Regions from separate parts of the Homo sapiens genome. Here region 1 is linked to region 2. The links come from fine-mapping of genetic effects on gene expression. A gene starts in region 2. The other region holds a variant in brackets. All regions are shown on one strand. Distances are from middle to middle.

What was found.
Region 1: its variant is fine-mapped to the expression of TRIM52 in whole blood (TOPMed, PIP above 0.99).

What each region holds. Positions count from the first base shown.
Region 1 is chr5:181,236,576-181,244,901 of GRCh38, forward strand. RACK1 (receptor for activated C kinase 1) reads right to left here and starts at 7,331. Exons shown (of 8, transcript NM_006098.5): 1 at 7,117-7,331; 2 at 5,599-5,770; 3 at 4,917-5,064; 4 at 2,912-3,007; 5 at 2,492-2,602; 6 at 1,524-1,664; 7 at 1,034-1,144; 8 at 322-467. The coding sequence starts at 7,225. The coding sequence ends at 402. It overlaps SNORD96A (small nucleolar RNA, C/D box 96A), which reads right to left and starts at 5,314; the gene lies at 5,243-5,314. SNORD95 (small nucleolar RNA, C/D box 95) reads right to left here and starts at 6,801; the gene lies at 6,739-6,801. RefSeq lists enhancers at 4,945-4,994, 7,126-7,185, 7,286-7,425, 7,506-7,575. The variant T/C (reference allele first, on the strand shown) is at 3,739.
Region 2 is chr5:181,257,816-181,266,141 of GRCh38, forward strand. TRIM52 (tripartite motif containing 52) reads right to left here and starts at 3,328. Exons shown (of 2, transcript NM_001346048.2): 1 at 2,186-3,328. The coding sequence starts at 2,998. It overlaps TRIM52-AS1 (TRIM52 antisense RNA 1), which reads left to right and starts at 3,397. Exons shown (of 3, transcript NR_102762.1): 1 at 3,397-3,569. RefSeq lists enhancers at 3,029-3,078, 3,259-3,308, 7,040-7,658, 7,659-8,276 and silencers at 3,449-3,598, 3,709-3,958.

The sequences.
Region 1 (8,326 bases), 21 kb before region 2:
ACGTGTCAGGGGTTGGACCTGCGGAGTCTGCTTTTTCTAAAAATTGACTGCAACCACTTTGAAATCAGTTCTTTCCCTCAAGAAGGTTCCCCAGGTTGAAGGTAGGCCCTGATGATCTGCACGTGGTATGTAGGACGCTGATGGGGTTTAAGTTCAGGGAAACTGCTATGTGACTTCTCACAAACATCCCACCTGATGCTACCCCAATCCTGAGAACTTAGACGGACAGCTCCCCTTCAAAGCCTTGTTTACTTAGTCCATACCTTGCATCCAGTTCGCTAGTGCAAACTTAATGTGTAAGCAATGTAGATAGAATGGAGCTTTTTTGCATATAAGAAAAAAAAACCTAAAAGTCAGAAAAGCCAGTTTTTTTTTTATTTGTAAAGCTCTGCCATAAACTTCTAGCGTGTGCCAATGGTCACCTGCCACACTCGCACCAGGTTGTCCGTGTAGCCAGCAAACAGAGTCTGCAGGGAAGAAATGACAGTGACAGGTCAGGCTGGCATAAATTCTGCAGTCTCACTAGATTCAGCCCAAGTGGCTTTTTTTGAGATCCGTCCACCTTGCTCCATTGTCTAGGCTGGAGTGCAGGGGTGCGATCCTGGCTCACTACAGCCTTAAGCCCCTGCAGTTCAAGAGATCCTCCCACCTCAGCCTCCAGTAGGCATGTGCCACAACGCCGGGTAGACTGTAAGAAACCGCTCTCATTTCAACAGCCAGCTTGTAAGTGGTGGTTATGTATTCCTTGAGGAAGAAACAGCTGGTGATAAGGCTCCAGACATTTGAAAACTGGTCAGATTAATTAAGGTATTAATTGAAGGCTGACAGCCACTGCGTTCCACATCAGTCTTCCCTCTGATGCAGAAACACATTCACTGGCATGGCAAACGAGGGCATCCTCATCAACCTGGCTTGTCATTTCACTTTATGCCAAGGACACTGCTCTTGTGTCTGACAGACTAGATATACTAACAGAATGAGAGGGAGAAAATTAACTGGAAGCAGAATCACCTGAGAGGACAGACCCACTTACCTGGCCATCAGCAGACCAGGCCAGGGAGGTGCACTGGGGTGGTTCTGCCTTGCTGCTGGTACTGATAACTTCTTGCTTCAGTTCATCTACAATGATCTTTCCCTCTAAATCCTGGGGAACAGGGCAAAAGCAACCTTAAGACTTACCAATCAAGAGAGTCTCCTCTTAAAAGCCCCTCAAGATTCTCAAGTTAAAAAGGGATGATTTTGCTCCCTGGGGTCCATGTATCAATGCCTACATGCATTTTCAGTTGCCACTAGTGGAAGGATGGTTTGCTACTGACATCTAGTAGAAGCTGGAAATGCTGCTAAACATCCTGGAATGTACAGGACTGCACACCACAACAGAGTTACTCAGACCAAAATGTCATTACGTGGAGGCTGAGAAAGCTTAGCTCCCAGGTGGGAGTCAGATGGCATATATAATAACCAAAACATTGCCAGGGCTCAGAGTGCAGCCAGGTACCCAGTCAATTGTAACCCACACTCACCCAGATCTTGATGCTGGGGCCTGTGGCAGCACACAGCCAGTAGCGGTTAGGGCTGAAGCACAGGGCGTTGATGATGTCCCCACCATCTAGCGTGTAAAGGTGTTTGCCTTCGTTGAGATCCCATAACATGGCCTGGCCATCCTGGACACAGGTAAGGTAAATCAGGACACTGTGACCTCTTCCAGATGTTAATTCTGCCCATCTCAAGATTCTGTCAGAATCAATTCTTACCTTTCCTCCATTACCCCAGGCTTCTTTGAAAGCTAATGACTCAAGTACCAATATTTATCTCTGTATACCTTTCCTTTAACGTAAGACCTTACCAACCCCATCAAAAAACCCCTCCCAACTTACATAAATCACTCCAATCATTTCTGAAAACCAGGATCCCAATCTCATCAACTGCTTCAAGAAACCAACTTTAGGCTGGGTGCGGTGGCTCATGCCTGTAATCCCAGCACTTTGGGAAGCCGAGGTGGGCGGATCACCTGAGGTCAGGAGTTCAAGACCAGCCTGGCCAACATGGTAAAATCCTCTCTACTAACATACAAAAATTACCCAGGAGTGATGGCGGGTGCCTGTAATCCTAGCTACTCGGGAGGCTGAGATGGGAGAATTGCTTGAACCCGGGAGATGGTTGCAGTGAGCCGAGATCGCGCCACTGCACTCCAGCCTTGGCAGCCGAGTGAGACTCCGTCTCAAAAAAAAAACAAAAAACAAACAAACAAAAAAACAACAAAAAAAACCCACAGGCTTATAGAAAATCATCTTTTTCTTCCAGATAGTATGCCTTAACTGTCATTTGCTGAAAGTAATCTTTGGAAACATATTCTCAGATTGCCATTATCTCATTATCCTCCTAAAACCATCTTGGCTAATGTTTGCCATTTTACGTTAGAGACGCTGGCTAAGTGCTCCTTCCATGACGCTGTCTTCCACTGAGTAGGAGACGCCTTGTCCCCAAATACCTTGCCTCCAGAAGCACAGAGGGATCCATCTGGAGAGACAGTCACCGTGTTCAGATAGCCTGTGTGGCCAATGTGGTTGGTCTTCAGCTTGCAGTTAGCCAGGTTCCATACCTGCATAGACGTGCGGTTGACAGGTGAACATCCTAGCTCTTGATGAGCTAGGGTCAGGCCCAACAAAAAAGGGCTTGGCACTTCTGGATACGGTAGCCATTTCTCATTCAGTAACATGTCCTGGCCACTTCACGTTAGATTATAACACATATCCAATGCAGTGTGCTGACTTACAAGGGACATCAGACCATGTGACAAGAGAAAGAGTCAACTGAGGGCATCTGCAAAGCTTTCCACAGGACTTGGAGTGTATGACCACCTGGGAGCACACCCTGACTGGTAAAGCCCCTGCCTTGGCTTGACGCTCACCTTGACCAGCTTGTCCCAGCCACAGGAGACGATGATAGGGTTGCTGCTGTTGGGCGAGAAGCGGACACAAGACACCCACTCTGAGTGGCTCTCATCCTACAGAAGATGGAAAGGAAATTAGGGCAAACAGTCCTATCCCATGAAATGCTAGACCTCCCAGCCCTACCCCTCAGTAGGATGATGGCTGGCAGCACCTTTCAAAAACCAAGAACCCAAACCTTTAAGCTCAATAGAATCCCTTTAGATTCCAGACAAGAAAATTTTTTAAAAATTTAGAGATGGTGGCTGGACGCAGAAGCTCACGCCTCTAATCCCAGGGAGGGCGAGGTAAGTGGATCACCTGAGGTCAGGAGTTTGAGACCAGCCTGGCCAAAATGGTGAAACCCTGTCTCTACCAAAAATACAAAAATTAACCAGGTGTGGCGGCGGGTGCCTGTAATCCCAGCTACTGGGGAGGCTCAGGCAGGAACACTGCTTAAACCCAGGAAGCGAAGGGTGCAATGAGCCAAGATTGTGCCATTGCACTCCAGCCTGGGCAACGAACAAGTGAAACTTCATCTCCAAAAAAAATATAATAATAATAATAGGGCCTGGTGTGGTGGCTCACGCCTGTAATCCCAGCACTTTAGGAAGCCAAGGTGGATGGATCATGAGGTCAGGAGATCAAGACCATCTTGGCTAACATGGTGAAACCCTGTCTCTACTAAAAATACAAAAAATTAGCCAGACCTGATGGCAGGCGCCTGTAGTCCCAGCGACTCGGGAGGCTGAGGCAGGAGAATGGCGTGAACCCGGGAAGCAGAGCTTGCAGTGAGCCGAGATCGCAC[T/C]ACTGCACTCCAGCCTGGGCGACAGAATGAGACTGTCTCAAAACAAAACAAAATAGTAGTGATAAGGCCGGGCACGGTGACTCACGCCTGTTATCACAGCAGTTTGGGAGGCTGAGGCGGGCGGATCACCTGAGGTCAGGAGTTTGAGACCAGCCTGGCCAACATGGTGAAACCCCATCTCTACTAAAAATACAAAAATTAGCTGGGCATGATGGCACACGCCTGTAATCTTCTCAGACACCCAACCATCGGCTTCTGAGCTGCGGCAACTCCCTTTCACCTTTTCACCGCCCCCCACCCATCCCCAAATCCCCGATCCAGCCCCCAATCTGCGATCCCAAATCTGCGATCTAGCCCAGAATCCATCTCAAAAAAGAAAAAAAATAAATAAAATTTTGTTTAAATAGATGGGGTCTCACTATGTTGGCCAGGCTGCTCTCCTGTCCTCAAGCAGTCCTCCCACCTTGGCCTACCAGAGAGCTAGGATTACAGGCGTGAGCCCAGCCCAGACAAGACTTTAAAAAGGCAAAGAAAGCGGGGGACGGTGGCTCACGCTTATAATCCCAGCACTTTGGGAGGCTGAGGCGGGCAGATCACCTGAGGTTGGGAGTTCAAGACCAGCCTGACCAACATGGAGAAACCCTGTCTCTACTAAAAATACAAAACCGGGCATGGTGGCGCATGCCTCTAATCCCAGCTACTTGGGAGGCTGAGGCAGGAGAACTGCTTGAACCCAGGAGGCGGAGGTTGTGGTCAGCCGAGATCACGCCATTGTACTTCAGCCTGGGGAACAAGCGAAACTGTCTCCGAGAAAAAAAAAAAAAAAGGCAAAGATAGGCAGGTGGGGGCTCACGCCTGTAATCCCAACACTTTGGGAGGGCGAGGCAGGCAAATCGCCTGAGCCCAGGAGTTTGAGACCACCCTGGGCAACATGGTGAAACCCTGTCTCTACTAAAACACAAAAAATTAGCTAGGCGTGGTGGCTGCGCACCTGTAGTACCAGCTACTCGGGAGACTGAGGCACCAGAATCCCTTGAGCCCGGGAGGCAGAGGTTGCAGTGAGCCGAGACTGCGCCACTGCACTCCAGCTTGGGCAAGAGTGAGACTGTCGCCAAAAAAAAAAAAAAAAAGCAAAGTTTAAGAGGGTGGAAGAGATCCTTGGAGATGGCTCACTTTACCTGGACAGTGTATTTGCACACACCCAGGGTATTCCATAGCTTGATGGTTTTATCTCGAGATCCAGAGACAATCTGCCGGTTGTCAGAGGAGAAGGCCACACTCAGCACATCCTTGGTATGGCCCACAAATCGCCTCGTGGTGGTGCCCCTGAGAGGGAGGAGTTTGTCATTCTCAGACTTAGCAAACACTCTCATTCAACGGTCAGACTCATTTCCTGGGCTTTGTCTCTGTCTCATTGCATCACTCATACAACCCTGGATTTGGCTCTGATCACAGAGTCAAGTGACTGAGTATATGAAAGAGAAGAGCCAAGTGACAGAGAATCCCTTCAGAATTGCAGGACATGTCCTCACTCCCACTTGGGGATTGGCTGACAATGCCATCTGTCATCACCAGGACCCTCTAATTCCACCTGCCAATTACCTGAGCTTTCAAGGTAAAACATGTTCAAACTGCTGCCCACTCAGAACTTTTGCACCTGGCAAAAATGTTCAGCCACACTCCTCAGCAATGCTGAGTAACTTATTTAAAGTGAGGGAGGCCAAACATCTTCTGTAGGTGTGCTCTGCTTTCCAGTTCCCAAATGGACTGGATCTCCCCTGGGAAACCAGCCAATTGCATCCACCTCACTTCTGCCCAGATTCTTCCCAAGGCCCCAGAGCTAAGTGAGCAGCTACTTGCGTTGTGAGATCCCAGAGGCGCAGGGTTCCATCCCAGGAGCCTGAGAGGGCAAACTGGCCATCTGAGGAGATAACCACATCACTAACAAAGTGGGAGTGACCCCGCAGAGCACGCTGTGGAATTCCATAGTTGGTCTCATCCCTGGTCAGTTTCCACATGATGATGGTCTTATCTAAAGGAGGTAAAACAGAAGAAAAATCAGTGAGGAACCCGCAGCCCGTTTAACACACTGGATAATTCACTAAGTGTCAAGGTCATGAGTGGGTTAACAACAACTAAGGACGCTTAAGGAGGGATGGAAACAACAGACAAGAGCAGTTACAGACCAGGACTGAGTGGCTCTATTCCAGACTAAAAACGCACGTAGAGGTAAACTGTACCCTGATAACTTTTTTTTTTCTTGAGATGGAGTCTCGCTCTGTCGCCCAGGCTGGAGTGCAGTGGCATGATCTCGGCTCACTCCAAACTCCACCTCCCGTGTTCAAGCAATTCTCCCGCCTCAGCCTCCCAAGTAGCTGGGATTACTTGGCCAGCTGGCACCTGCCAGCACGTCTGGCTAATTTTTTAACTAGAGATGCGGTTTCACCATTGGCCAGGCTAGTCTCTAACTCCTGATCTCAAGTGATCCACTCGCCTCTGCCTTCCAAAGTGCTGGGATTATAGGCGTGAGCCACCGCGCCCAGCCTGTATCCTGAGAACTTAATTTAGGTGCCAGAAATACAGACACCCTTTCCTGAAACTCAGACGAACTCAACAGCCACTTTGTGTCTTCTCTGCAACCAAATGCACAGCAGTTTGTGGCTGTAGAGTAGCTGGGGCCTCCTATGCCTACCTCTGAGGGCCGACAGAAATGTAGTAATGAATGCTGGAAAAGCCACTTCAGGCGCTACAGGATTGGATGCTTTTACTGAAACCTGTCCCACTCAACAAATTTTACGATTAACAGCCAGACATGATTCAAAAGTCAGACAATTCTTAACAGTGTAGCAGCAAAGCGGAAGCACAAGAAGCGTCTAAACGCAGTCAGGAACACAGGGATAGGGACGGGGAGAACCAGGGGCAGAAAAAGTAGGCCGACACTTGAGCCACGAGGTCCTCTGGAGTCCACCTGCCTCCCCACGAGCCTTGGGCCGGGCGGCAGCTCAGAAACAGCCTCTGGATTTCAGCACCGACACTCAGATGGCATGTTGGGGTCATCACCGCCCCGCCCGGCCCGTAGGCCCCCGGCCACACTACGAAGGAGAAGGCAAAAGATATTTTAAAAGTTTCCAACTCTCCAACCCTCCTAGCAGCTGCGAGCTGATGTACACGTAGGTTCTCATCTGCAATGTGGTTCGCCCGGGTTGAGGCCTAGGCTCGGGTCCGCACGCCCCAATTCACAATGGGGCAGAGAAGTCTGTCAGTCCCCGCCAACTCGCGCGCCACCGGCCTGCCACACCACACGCGGAATTCCCTACACGACACGCGGAATCCCCCAGCCCTGCAATCTCGGGTCCTGAAATCTACCTTAGTCCGTACCTCGAGAGGCGGAGAGGATCATGTCCGGGAACTGCGGGGTAGTAGCGATCTGGGTTACCCAGCCGTTGTGGCCCTTGAGGGTGCCACGAAGGGTCATCTGCTCAGTCATGGCGGCGGCGAGAGCGTGTGTCGCTGCAGCGACGAGGATGGCACTGGATGGCTTAGAGAAACTAGCACCACAACCTCTCCTGCCGCCGCCTTGCAGTGAAAGAGAGAGAGAAAAGCCCCCCGCCGGAACCGGAAATACCCGCTCGACCATGCAAAATGGCGAGCCCCATGATACATTTCTGCTCAAGATGGCGGCGCCATGTAATGCAAAAGGCAGAGGGAAATTGCAAGGCATCACAGTCCCGTCTTCCGTACAACAAAATCTGACTGCACTTTACAAATACACTCTGAAACAAGCACATTCAAGTGTTTAAAAAGGCTTCTCAGGGATGATGTAGAGCGAGAAGCGAAAGAGGTGAAGTGTACGGCACATTCCCATGAGGACCGCCGGGCTGCTTCCCCGCCCCTATGTGGCATAGCTCGAGCTCCGCCTGTTCCACTTGGTGCGGGGAGGGTTGACGGGGCAACCCCAGGGGAGCTTAATTTTCATTTCACTATCGTGGGTAACGATGGGCAATTTAAAAAGTAGAGTATTAAAATGTTAAAAATAAACTTTAAAACTGTGCTTCCGGAGGGTGTTCTCCCCTCACGAGGTTTTTGTTCTGATGCACACCAACTCCGGAAGGACTTAGTCCAGGCTGGACTAAGGCAGGAGAGGGTTACTCTGGATGAACTAAGAATTGGTCTCTTTTTCCCGGGCGCGGTGGCTCATGCCTGTAATCCTACCACTTTGAGAGGCCGAGGCGGGTGGATCACTTAAGGTCAGGAGTTCAAGACTAGCCTGGCCAACATGATGCAACCTCTTTCCAAATAAATAAATAAAAAAAATTAAAATTAGCCAGGCGTGGTGGGGGGTGCCTGTAATCCCAGTTACTCGGGAGGCTGAGGCAGGAGAATCCCTTGAACCTGAGAGGCGGAGGTTGCAGTGAACCGAGATCGCGCCACTGCACTCCAGCCTGGGCAGCAGAGCGAGACTCCGACTCAAATAAATAAATACATACATACAATAAAATAATAAAGTAAAAATTGCCCTGTGTGTTGCTAGACTGCCAATCCGTTCCTGCCTAGGCCAGAACACGGGAAGCTCTCGCAGAAACGGAAA
Region 2 (8,326 bases):
CCCGTCTACACTAAAAATGCAAAAATTAGCTGGGCATGGTGGTGCGCACCTGTATTCCCAGCTACTTGGGAGGCTGAGGCAGGAAAATCGCTTGAACTCGGGAGGCGTAGGTTGCAGTGAGCCGAGATCGCACCACTGCACTCTAGCCTGATGACAGAGCGAGACTCCAGCTCAAATAAATAAGTAAATAAATAAATAAATAAAAATAAAAAAAGATTTGTGTCTTAACTGTGCACTTAACAATATTTACTATAAAATGGGGGAAGGGGATGATGATAAAAGTTAGCTGAGGAAGGCTGGGCACAGTGGCTCATGCCTGTAATCCCAGCACTTTGGGAGGCCCAGGTGGTGGATCTCCTGAGGTCAGGAGTTCAAGACCAGCCTGGCCAACATGGTGAAACCCCATCTCTACTAAAAATGCAAAATTAGCTGGGCATGGTGGCATGTGCCTGTAATCGCAACTACTAGGGGTGCTGAGGCAGGAGGATCGCTTGAACCCGGGAAACGGAGGTTGCAGTGAGCCGAGATCATGCCATTGCACTTCTGCCTGGGCAACAGAGCAAGATACCGTCTCAAAAAAAAAAGTTAGAAGAGAAATGGAAGGTTCTCTCTTTTCCTCAGCTTCAGTATACTAAAACCCAGAAGCATAGGACATAAGTTTTTTCCATGGGATACTTTAGTTATCACCTTGGGTGAAAACATGGTACTAGGATTTGTCCTTCAAGTCAGGTTAATGTAACAGAGGTAGCAGTGACTTATGGTTAGATTTGTGCCTTAACTGTGCACTTCCCAATATTTGCTATAAAATGGGGGCAGGGGGGTGATAATAATATCTAATACATGAAGCCTGTAGGACAGTGCTCTGTGTTTGTGTTTTGACTGCAACTCAAAGAAAGCAATATATTTTTAGATGAAGTATATACATGTATATATATATAACTTAAAAGTTTCATAAAGCAGTACTTACCCTTACTATGTTCCATGTGTTCTAATATTTTCTCTTACTTCATTTTGAGATAATGCTAGGCATGACCCATTTATTTTAAGACACACTAATTGGTCAAAAAACAATTTGAAAACCACTGCTATAGGAGAACACGAGGAAATATATTTTATAAACTGTAAAGCACTACTAAGACGTGAGCAGCGGCTGCTGCATATCCAGGTCAACCTTTATGGGCCTGAAGACAACCTCTCCTTCGTTTGGGCACTGCTAGGAGTCAAATCTACCTAGACTTTTGGTAAGGAAGATGGTACTCATGCTCATTGTCATTGAGACAATTATCTAATGCTTAGAAGTCAAGACTAGAAAGCAAGGCATTAACCATATCAGCACCCAAACAAGGGAAGACAAGTTACAAGAAAGCCAAATAAAACAGCAAACATTTGTTTAGTGCTTTATGGTTAACATATATGATCTCTTTTAATCCTTACAATCCTAGGGAAAAAGTGAAGCTCAAGGAGGTTGACACCTGCCCAAGACTAGACAGTAAGTGGCAGAGCCAGGTCATCTGATCCTAAATCCCGCACTCCTTCCACTATGATAAAATACCAGGAAAGAAAAGTGATCAGGATATGAGGCACATTCTGATCCATCAAAGATGCTTATATGCTTTGCCTTTCTCTAGAAGGAAAACGGACCCCACTGAAGGTAGAGATGCAATCCCAGACTTTCAGAGGGGGGGTGTGGCCAATTGCTATCAGTAGTTTAGGACTCACATCTGGCATTTCTGTCTACCAATACATCTATTTTGACACTGCTTGTGCTGAGGTCCCAAATGTCTATTATCTCCAAGTACTGTGGCTTTCTATTCCTATCTGTACCTGTCCCAGGGAATTGGTCAAGGACTCACATTAGGGAGAAATGAAGTACTGGGTATCTGTTACTCACGTCCCTTACACTTAGGTAGACTGCCAGTATTAGCAGTAGTGGTCCGCTTCCAGTGACCGTCATATTATCTGTTCAGCTTCCTCTGGGGAAGCCAATCTGCCCCAATCTTCATGGTTTTGTGTCTCCTTTTTTACCCATATGACCATCTCTCTCCACCGTGTCTCCCTCATCAAATAAAGAGAAGTTTAGCAACTAAGTACCTGAGGAGGTGGGAAAGGAATGCTACTCATTCCTCAGCTCTCCTAGTTACCTTTCCACTCCCTTCATCCCCCCACATTCCCTCATTTCTCTCACCTGGTACTCCTGCACCACCTCCTCCAAAGGCAGCACGCTGTGCTGTTTGTGGCTCCTGGATTCTCGGCACACCACACAGATGGCCTCTTTGTCCACCTCACAGAAGAGTTTCAGGGCTTCCTGGTGTTTAAAGCACATGCCCTGATCATTACTCCGGTTTCCCCGATAAGGAGTGGGGCACATCTGGCGAATTATCTGGACCATGTTGGCCAGCTGCAAGTTGGGACGAAAGCTGCGACGTGTAAAGCTCTTTCGGCACTGGGGGCAGGTGAACTGCCCTGGAAGGGGCAAGGAAGGAGGCGGGTGGATGTCAGGATACAGCTCTTCATCTTCGTCCTCATCGTATGCTTCCAGTATTTCTTCTTCTCGGTAGACATCAATTCTCAGGTCAGGTCTCAAGCCTCCTAGGTAATAGTCCTGATCTTCCTCTTCTTCTTCTTCCTCCTCGTCCCACATATAGTCTACGTTGTCCCAATTAGTTATACCACTGTCACCGAGCCAGAGTTCATCGTCATCTTGGTCTTGGAACAACTCTTCGTCAGCATTCCCCCGATACAACACCTCTCGAATGGAGCCGTCCCATCCATCCATGGCCCCCACCGCTTCCTCGTCCTCCTCCTCCTCCCATTCATCTTCCTCCTCGTTCTGGTCCTCCTCGTCCTCCTTACTCCACAGCTGGGTCACACACCCTCGGCAGAAGTTGTGCCCACAGCTGATGGACACGGGGTCCTTGAAGTAATCCAAGCAGATGGCACACACCGCTTCCTCCTGAAGGGTCTGCATGGGGCTGGGAGTAGTGGCATAACCAGCCATCTTAATGCCCGCCGGCAGGTGTAGATACGTCAGCTTGGAGCTGAGGAGCGGGGACGCGCCTGCAGGCCTGCCTCCAAACTACTCTGGTGACCCGAGGCTGTCCTCAACCTTGCTCTTCTTCCTCGGGGCCGCAGGGGAGCTTTGACCCCCTCTCTCAGGGTGCGAACGCCCAGATCCAGACTCACAGCCTCTCTCTGGGATCGGTGGGGACAGAGCAGGCTGCAGCCCCCAGCTGCTCGGTCCTGTCACGTCTCTCGCTACCCTCAGGGTGTGCCCTACACTGCGGCGTCCGCCTCAGATGCAGCCGCTGGCTACCCTGCCCGAGGCGACGCAAAATGACGTCTCGCTCCTGCACACGCTCTGGAGAGACGCTCTAGGCCGGCGGAGGACCACGTCTCTATGGTGTGCCGGGGGCCGCGCGGGCCGGGAGTTGGGTGGGCTGGGGGACAGGCGCGCCCGCGCCGCCCGCTCCAGCTGGGCTAGTGCTGCACATTCCGGCCAGCCCCTCCTCAAGACCCCATTCCCAAGCCCCTTCTCAGCTCCCTCGGGCCGGCAGAGCGGCTCTGATCAGGTCAGCGGCGGACGCCGGGAAGAGGCCCGGCTTGGGAGAGGTGGTTTGGTGGGTTGGCTGGTTCTAGATGGTGGGGGGGTCAACACTTGAGGGGGACTGGGTCTCCGAGCCGTTGTCCAGCCTGAGCCGGAGCCCCAGGAAGGTTAGAGGGAAGGGGGATAAATCTCTCCGGAAGCCCCGCCCGGGCCGGGGCCGAGTTGGTCCGCGGCGGTGGGGAAGCCTGGGACACCACCCTGGTGCTGTCGCCCGTCCCGCCGTCCGCGCTTGGGGTGCCTTTGTGGGGATCCGGGCGCCGCACAGCTGGGAGGGCCTGCCGCCCGGGAGGCTCGGATCCGGGGCGCCCAGTGCCCCCCGCTGCCTTCCGTGAGCCGTCGGGCCCCAGCTCCACGTAGGCCTCAGACCCAGCCCTGTTTCTGCTTGCGGGGCCGCGGCTGCGCAGTATTGCGGCGTCTGCCAGCAAAGCTGCGCCCCGGTCGTGGGTCCCCTGAGGGGGCCGGGGCTCAAGTTCCCTTCGGTGCTGCCGCCTGCGTCGGGCCAGGGTTCCGAGTTCCAGCCCTGAGCTCTGTGAGCTCGGCCGGGAGGGGGCTGGATTTGGGACCACACTTCCTCACCGCCGTGGTTTAGACTTAGTTTGAGAGCGGCTGGCCCCTCCTTCCTGTCCCGGTGTCCTCCGCTGTCTGTTATGCCCTTCACTCCTCCCTGGGGAGGGAGGGCTGGGGGCGCTGTCTGGGTCTGTTTTCCACCCCAGCGGGGCCCTAGGGCAGTGTCATTTAGACTCCACTCTGTCACCTTTCCTGGAGAGGGGACCTGATCCAGGGCTGAGAGGTTTTTTTTTTTTTTTTTTTTTTTGAGATGGAGTCTGGCTGTTGCCCAGGATGCAGTGCAGTGGCGCGATCTCGGCTCACTGCAAGCTCCGCCTCCCAGGTTCACGCCACTCTCCTGCCTCAGCCTCCCGAGTAGCTGGGACTACAGGCGCCCGCCACCACGCCCGGCTAATTTTTTTTTTTTTGTATTTTTAGTAGAAACGGGGTTTCACCCTGTTAGCCAGGATGGTCTCGATTTCCTGACCTCGTGATCCGCCCACCTCGGCCTCCCAAAGTGCGGGCTGAGAGATCTTACAGTGGGAGGGGGAATCAGGCCCTGGGGAAAGGCTTCTCAGGGGTTGTCTCCTTCTGTCTTCTGTCTCTGCAGGTAGGGATAGAACCAGGTCAGGCCTGGATTTGTAGTCCCAGAGAACAGAGGATGGAGATGGGGGCTGGACGCAGCTCAGAGGGGCTGGTGCTCATGGGCTCTGTGTATGCCTTCTCCTGTGGCCTGGTTCTGTGTACAGATGTTCTACCCCAGTGCTGAGGGCCAAGACACCCTCTTGGCCTTGGTGCTGGGGGCATCCTGGGGCAAGGAGTGTAGGCAGAACTCCTCAACATTGGAGATTTGGGGAAATTGTGTCCCCTCCCTTTTAGACTCCTGTAGCCCCCTGCAGTGGCACGATCTGGGCCCACAGCAATCTCCACCTCCTGGGCTCAAGCAGTCCTCCCACTTCAGCTTCTGGAATAGCTGGGAACACAGGCATGCACCACCACTCCAGGCTAATTTCTTTATTTTTTTATAGAGACAGGGTTTCGTCATGTTGCCCAGGCTAAAGTGCCGTGGCTATTTATAGTCACGATTATTGCACCCTACCACCTCAAACTCCTGGACTCAAGTGATCCTCCCGCCTCAGCCTGTGGAGTAGCTGGGACTACAGGCATGCACCACTATGCCTGATTTACCCATTCTCTTTTAGATTTTTTTTTTTTTTGAGAGAGGGTCTTGCTCTGTTGCCCAGGCCAAATGCAGTGGTATGATCATGGCTCATTGCACCCTTGACCCCTGGGCTCAAGTGATCATCCTGCCTCAGCCTCCCAAGTAGCTGGGACTACAGGTGTGCATTACCACATCTGGCTAATTTTTATTATTTTTTTTTTTGTAGAGATGAGGTCCTGCTATGTTGCCCAGGCTAGTCTTGAACTCCTGGTTTAAGCAGTCCTGCCTCAGCCTTACAAAGTGCGGGAATTACAGATGTGAGCCACTACGCTCAGCCCCATACAAGGTTTTTTTTCTTTCTTTACCTGCCCTTCAATAAGAAGTACATTGCACATACTGATCCAATATAGACCTGCACATATATAACAGAAAGAAAATTTCTGCAGTGTTCTTTCCCTTATGACATCCAAAGCACTCTGATATTTTCTGTTTTATTTCAGTAAAATGCTGTTGAAGGCCCACGGGCATGACTGCACCCCTCACTAATTGGTCATTGGTTTGGGGAGGACACCACTGTCCCAGTGGAACCTTGAGCACACCTTGGAGCCCTCCTCTTCCTCTCCGGACCTGTGCCAAACTGTGAGTGGCACAGAGCAAGGACTGTATGTGTTCTCTTCTTTGTTGCATACTCAGTTCCTTGACCACAGTGCCAAGCACACAGCGAGCACTCCCTGTGTATCTGCTGAGTAAATAAACGAATGAACAAACCCAACACATTTCAGCCAAGTCCTGCTGATGTTTCTCCTCCGATCTAGCTCCTCCTTTCCAGCCTTACTTCTGCCACTCCAGATTTCACCCCCATCAGCTTCAGACTGGATAAAAGGAAACCATTTCTCTAAAGGATCACTTGCTCTCTCATTTCAGGCCATCCTGCAGCCACCAGAACCTTCCACATGAAATGAAAGGCTCACCACTTCATAGGCTTTAAGGAAATTCTTGGCCAGGTGTGGTGCCTCACTCATGTAATCCCAGTGCTTTAAGAGGCCAAGATGGGAGGATTGTTTGAGCCAGCTGTTTGAGACCAGCCTGGGCAACGTCATGAGACCCCATCTCCACAAAAAAAAAAAAAAAGAAAATTGGCTGGGTGCGGTGGCTCATGTCTGTAATCCCAGCAATTTTGGAGGCTGAGGCGGGTGGATCACTTGAGGTCAGGAGTTTGAGACCAGCCTGGCCAACATGGTGAAACCCCGTCACTACTAAAAATACAAAAATTAGCCAGGCGTGGCGGCAGGTGCCTGTAATCCCAGCTACTTGCGAGGCTGAGGAAGAATTGCGTGAACCTAGGAGGTGGAGGTTGCAGTGAGCCAAGATCATGCTGCTGCACTCCAGCCTGGGCAACAGAGTGAGACTCCATCTCAAAAATAATAAAAATAAATTAAAAAAATTAAAAATTACCTGCGTGTGATGGTGTGCGCCTGTAGTTCCAGCTACTTGGGAGGCTGAATTGGGAGGATCATTTGAGCCCAGGAGGTCAAGGCTGCAGTAAGCAGTGATGGTGCCACTGCCCTCAGCCTGGGCAACAGAACAACATGCAATCTTAAAAAAAAAAAATCCTGGCCAGGCACAGTGGCTTATGACTGTAATCCCAGCACTTTAGGAGACGGAGGCGGGCAGATCACGAGGTCAGGAGATTGAGACCATCCTGGCTAACACGGTGAAACCCCGTCTCTACTAAAAATACAAAAAATTAGCTGGGTGTGGTGGCAGGCGCCTGTAGTCCCAGCTACTTGGGAGGCTGAGGCAGGAGAATGGCGTGAACCCGGGAGGTAGAGCTGGCAGCGAGCCGAGATGGCGCCACTGCACTCCAGCCTGGGCGACAGAGAGACTCCATCTCAAAAAAAAAAAAAAAAAAAAAAAAAGCCAAGGGGAAGGCCCAACCCTAGCCTTGTCTTCTTTCTCCTCTTTGTGGAGAAGCTCACAGATGTGGGTGTAGCAGAAGTGTGACTGCGGCCCACGCTGCCTCCCTGCGTCTTCTCACCTTCTCCTTGCCCTGCGCTGTCACACCAGCGAACGAACCACACAGCCTCCCCTCAAGGCAAAAAGCCGGGGTCAGGGGTCAACCTGCCAGCTGCCCACGCCGAGGGTTTGACAGCCTCAGCTAGGGCTCTCTAGGCTCCTCCTCTCCACAGTCTTTAACGGGGAGGAGGCCCGGGGCAATGCTGCTGGCAGAGGAGGAGTGGGCTCTAGGTTAGGGAGAAGTGTGGCTGTGCACTGAATTGCTCTTGGCAGTAGCTCACTGAGACTAACTCGGGGGAAGGCACTGTTGGTCCTGGCCTGGGAAAACACGGAAGAGGGCTAGAGGGAGTGAGCTGCAGTGCATTGCGGGCAGGGTCCTGCAGGCTCCCAGGGTCTCGGCCCCAAGAGACAGAACCCCTGCCCTGCCTGGCCGTAAATTAGATGAGGCTGAGAGGAGCAGGGGCTGGAGCTGGTTTTCTCGGAGCCTCTGCAGCGCTAGGCCTTAAGCACACAGCCCCTTCACTCTTCCCGGCCCATGCACCAGGGAGAGGACACGAGGTGGAGTGGCCTGGCCCCTCTGTCCATCCAATCTCTGGCTGCAGTAGGAGAGAGGGCCCCTGCATGCATCATCATCAATTCCAAAGGGCTCCTAGGTTTGTGGGAATTTCAGGCCAGGCAGGTGGTGGGAGAAGGAGACTGAGCTCAGGTTCTTCCCCTAATCAGAGTGAAGATCAAAACACCCTGCTCCTGAGTTCCCTGCATCGGTACCTTCCCTGAGGACAGGAGACGGGGGACCAGGATGGGAGAAGGTCAGGAGAGAGCTGGGGTTGACTCCCAAGGCCCAGGTTACAGCCCCCTGCTCTCAGCCCCATCTCACGGTAGGCCCCTCCCCGGTGTGGGCCAGTCCAGCCTGCCCAAGTGAAATGACCAACGTGCCAGAAAGTTTAATTTCAAGGTTTAAACAATAATAAGTAATACATACTGAAAACAAAACATAC